Regions from separate parts of the Homo sapiens genome. Here region 1 is linked to region 2. Evidence: fine-mapped expression QTL. Tissue or cell type: whole blood. Region 2 holds a variant in brackets; the other region holds the start of a gene. All regions are shown on one strand. Distances are between the middles of the regions.

Evidence for each region. PIP is the estimated chance that this variant, and not a neighbour inherited with it, causes the effect.
Region 1: ATP6V1C1 starts here. The variant in region 2 is fine-mapped to the expression of ATP6V1C1 in whole blood (TOPMed, PIP above 0.99).

The regions. Positions count from the first base shown.
Region 1 is chr8:103,019,381-103,022,232 of GRCh38, reverse strand. ATP6V1C1 (ATPase H+ transporting V1 subunit C1) reads right to left here and starts at 1,150. Exons shown (of 13, transcript NM_001695.5): 1 at 1,008-1,150. RefSeq lists an enhancer at 711-920.
Region 2 is chr8:103,041,156-103,043,655 of GRCh38, reverse strand. It overlaps ATP6V1C1 (ATPase H+ transporting V1 subunit C1), which reads right to left. Exons shown (of 13, transcript NM_001695.5): 3 at 1,249-1,316. Among named protein-coding and RNA genes, the nearest start is that of ATP6V1C1, 21 kb to the right of the region's middle. The variant T/A (reference allele first, on the strand shown) is at 1,358.

The DNA of each region.
Region 1 (2,852 bases), 22 kb after region 2:
CTCTCAACCTGTTCAAATCCTGAGGGCTTGCCAAGACTCAAGTTTTCTTTCCTCCAGAATATCTTCCCATAGTGCCAGTTTACACATGTGTCGTTGCTCCACACTTTCAAAGCACTTCGCATTCTCTTTTTGGTAAGTATACATAAACTGCATCGTATTTTAACGTGTCCTGTGTGTAGACTTTTCTCTCCAACGTTAGTGCTAACTCCTAAGGATAGACTGTTCACATCCCACCCGTTCCATTCCCAGAGCGGCGCTAAGTACTGGGCTCGCACTGAAGCATGTGATTTTTCCCTAACATACCAGAATTTTCCTCTGAAAAGAATACTAGCTTCCCCCTTACTCCTGTTTCTCAAGTGATTCAATATGCCTTATGTGACTCTCACCAAGTTCTTTTCTAGGGGTTTGTTTTGTTTTGTTCTGTTTTGTTTGCCTACCCTCCCCCATTCTACTAAAAAATAGTTGAGTTCTCTGGATTCCTGTTCTTTCTCATTCCTAGAGGGACCTTGTGTACTCTGTGAGGGTTCCTTGCCTGCAGTTAGGGGCTCCTAGGCCTTTAAACTGTCATCCCACCACCCCCGACCCCCGACACCCGCGCCCCCCCCAACACACACCCAGTGAAGGCACTTGCGCTAGCTGTGACCTCACACACACCACTCCATAGCCTCACCTGGACCTATCACTTCATTCCCCTCAATCAATCAGGCGGCGTGCATTCCTACCCAAGAAGAAAGATCCCAGACCGCTGTATCTCTCCTTTCTGCCTGTCATTAACTACCCACGAGAGCTCTTTCTCTTTTTCCCTCCTTCTCTTCCTTAGAGACGGAACCTAGGCCCAAGACGGTGAATTGGCGCCGAGAAACCAGACACAGCCACCCAGCCAGCTCCAGCTCCAACGCCACGGTCTCTGCCCCCGCACCCACCCGCGTCCCTCCCAGGCAGCGACCGGAGCTCATGCTTCGGCCTGACCAGGACTCCCCATCCGGGGAGAGCCATCGCTCACTGACCCAGGAAGGTGTCAAACGAGGAAGTAGCAGCAGTAACAGGTACCGAGGCAGACAGCCTAGCGGACGCTATCGGCTCAGCGATCCATCCCTTCCCGACCTAAGCTCCGGCCTCACGGCTTCCTCTACCCAAGCGAACACAGAACAAGTCACGTGCCAGCCCAGCAGTCAGCTGACCGCGGCGCGCGCTGCTCCGCCTACGCCCGCGCCACTGCGCAGCCGCAGCCGCTGCCACTGCCGGGCCTTGGGAGAGGGGCGGGACTAGGAGGCTACGGGGCGGCAAGGGGACCCTATATTCGGGGCTGATCGCTGTTGTTCCAGAGTGGGTGGGGTTTTCCGCTTCTTCCAGTGTTGCAAGTGGCGTTTTGTCCACCACTTGTAAACGTCAGCGCCACTGCAGGTTTCTGCGGGTCAGAAATTGTCTCCAACCCCCTACAAGGGCTTCTCCACTTGGGGTTTTCTTCGTCAGCTGGGTTTTCTACCTAGTATACTGGCTAGTAGTTCATTTTAGCAGATTCACATTTTCCTGAAGTCCACTTAGACTTAATTTCATAAATGGTCCATGGAGCATTTACTGTGCGCCAAGCACTGCGCTCGTTCTTAGGATTGCCTACTGGAGAGAATCACTCCTTGCCACGAAAGCGCCTCATAGATAGTTGAAACCACATTAGATAGTGGGAAACCAAAGGTTTTAGGACAGAGGCATAGACAGGGGAAAGCATCTCCTTTGGAGAAAAATAGGTAACAAGCTCCTCCCAGGAACCCTGCTTATTTCATTAGCTTGGGGAGATAGATAGTAATGTCCTAATTTAGAACACAGAGTTTTAGAAGTAGTAGAAATTTTGAGATGTTCTAATTTAATCCTTTTAGATCTACAGATGAAGAAAGTGAGGGCACGGAGTTGTTCAGCGCAAGGGAATAGATACCAGGTGTTGAATCCAGGCTCTCCTACTTACTAGTTGTGTGACCTTACTCCTCTGAATTTCAGCCTGTTCACATGCAAAGTGGTGGTAATAATACCTTACACAGGTATTGTGAGGATTAAATGAAGCCTGTGGTTAGCACAGTGCCTGGTACATAGGAAACAACCAGTAAATGGTCGTCATTATTACTATGTATTATAGGACCCAGGTTTTCTGACCTATACTATGCCTTTTCTGCTGTGTCCCCCTACAGAAATTCACCACAGAATTTCTCAGAGCCTCAGTATTAGGTTGGACAGAAAGTAACAACCACCAGACTATCCCCAACCTGACGCTTTCACCAGTTTTGGATGAAGTTCATGCAATTACAATAACCAGTTCTATAACATGGCTTCAGAAACTTATCAGAATTCCAGAGGCTTTTATCTGCCATCACGAAATGAGCCTAAAGGCATTTTTTTTTTGGTTAGGTCCACTAAAACTTTCTGCCATGATGCAAATGTTATCCTGTGCTGTCTGTACAGTACCCACTAGCTACATGGAGCCATTGAGCACTTGAAATATGGTTAGTGTGACTTAGTAACTGAATTTTAAAATTTATTTCACTTTAATTAAAATTTAAATAGCCACATGAGACCAGTGACAACAGCCTTAGACAGTGCAGTTTTAAGGTCCATGCTTGAACTATCTTGGTTTCTTCGTGCTTGTGTGTGGTCCTGAGGCAGACTTTTTGTCTTGGATTCTTAATTTCTAAACTGAATTATACCTCGCGCAACTTTCCAACATTTGGGGTTTTTTTTTTAGTTTTGGGGTTTTTTTTGAGATGGAGTCTCGCCCTGTCGCCCAGGTTGGAGAGCAGTGGTGCGATCTCAGCTCACTGCAAACTCCACCTCCCGGGTTCAAGCGATTCTTGTGCCTTGCCCTC
Region 2 (2,500 bases):
AAATTTTTAAAAATGAGATATTATCAGCCGGGCGCGGTGGCTCACGCCTGTAATCCCAGCACTTTGGGAGGCCAAGGTGGGTGGATCACGAGGTCAGGGGTTTGAGATCAGCCTGACCAACATGGTGAAACCCCGTCTCTACTAAAAATACAAAAAAAAAAAAAAATTAGCTGGGCGTGGTGGTGGGTGCCTGTAATCCCAGCTACTCAGGAGGCTGAGGGAGGAGAATTGCTTGAACCCAGGAGGTGGAGGTTGCAGTGAGACGAGATCATGCCACTGCACTCCAGCCTGGGCGACAGAGCGAGACTCCGTCTCAAAAAAAACAAAAAAAACAAAGATATTATCTCATACCCCCTGGGATGGCTATAATCAAAAAGACAAATAATAAAAATAATAACAAGTGCTGGCAAGGATGTAGAGAAATGAGAATCTTCATACACTGCCGGCGGGAATATTACACGGTACAGCCACTCTGGGAAACAGTTTGTCAGTTCCTCAAAAAGCAAAGCATAGAGTTACCATATGACCCAGAAATTCCACTCTTAGGTACATACCCAAGAAAAATGAAAACATTTAAGAACACAAACTTCTACACAAATATGCACAGCAGCATTATTCTTATAAGCCAAAAAGTGGAAACAAAATAAACGCCCATCAACTGATGAACGGATTAATGTGATATATATGTATACATATATAGTGGAATATTAGTAATAAAAAGAAATGAAATACTGATACATGCAACTGCTGGGATAAACTTCAAAACATTATGCTAAGCAAAAGAAGACAGTCACAAAAGACCACGTATTGTATTCCATTTACAAGAAATGTCCAGACCAAGCAAATCTATAGTGGCAGAACAATTTGTGGGTGGTGGGGACGGTAAGTGACTGCTAATGGGAACAGGAATAGAGGATGATGAAATATTTAAAACTGATTGTGGCAATGGTTACACAAGTCTGAATACACTAAGAATCACTGAATTGTACACCTGAAATAGGTGAAATGCATGGCATGTAAACTATATCCCATTAAAGATAGTAAAAAGAGAATCAGCATTTTCATATTTCAAACAGGTGCATTTTATGTAAATTGTACCTTCATAAAATTGATATACGAAGGGAAAAAAGTCGTTTTCTAAAACCATTCCAATAAGCAGAGTATACATGTGATAATAAACCCAGTGTCCATGAAGCCTGATAATAGTGTCTCCCATTTTGCTCTACTCCATGCATATAAGTACATTACCCTTCTACAAATGCATCCAGTTTAGCCAGTTCATCTGACAAGCCAACCAAGACATCCAACGTGCCAACCTAAAAGGAAAATATATTGTTATTTAGGTGGCATGCTTTTT[T/A]AAAAAAAAAAAACAAGATGATTCATCTTGACCTAAAGTTCTCACAAATCTTAAATTCTCCCTATTTTATTTCATAATGTGTAAGTACAGTTAAAAGATGTTTGCCAGACATTTCAAAGCTATTTATATGTACAAGATAATCCTTTAATTCATGGTTATAAGCACCACTTAAGACTTGAAGACTCCTCAAAGACAGGTCTGTGCTTGTACTATTCAATGACACTGGATCATTTGAAGTCTTAGTTTACAACACAGGCTCTTAAGTAGGAGGTCCACGGATGTGCGCTAGAGGGTCTGTAATTAAATTTGCATGCAAAACTGTGCATAAGTGAGTACGTTTTGGAGGAAACATCTTGTCTCAAAGGTATCCGTAACTCCAAAAATATTAAAAATCGGTCATTTTATTGCATTTATTATTTATATTTTTGAGACGGAGTCTCACTCTGTCTCCCAGGCTGGAGTGCAGTGGTATGATCTTGGCTCACTGCAACCTCCACCTCCTAGATTCAAGCGATTCTCTTGCCTCAGCCTCCCAAGTAGCTGGGATTACAGGTGCCCACCAACATGCCTGGCTAATTTTTGTATTTTTAGTAGAGACTGGGTTTCACCATGTTGGCCATGCTGGTCTCAAACTCCTGACCTCAAGTGATCCGCCCACCTCAGCCTCCCAAAGTGCTAGGTTTACAGGTGTGAGCCATGATGCCCCACCAAGAATCAGTCATTTTAAATATTTCTTAAATGAATGCTGCCTACGACTCCCTCATTCAGTTAACCAGCAAAATGTCAGTATCATGATCTTTTCCATTCTTTACAAATGTTCCATCAACTGATTACTGGACACCTGCTTTACTTTGAGGCTGCTAGATGACTGATCTTTGATAAGAGTGAATCTTACATAGATTAACCGGATTAAATAACTGGGTTAGATTTGCCAAGTGTGATTAAGTAGGTGCCATGGTAACACATTTACAATGTAAGAATCAGCATAATATAAATTTACTAACAAAAACTTCACTATGATATTTAAGAATATATATTACTAAGAGTTTTAATTTCTGAAAATCATATTTGTGAATGTAACACATCAAACATTTTCATAAGATTTTTCATTGCAATTTAGAAGAGCACAAAAAGCCTAAGTAG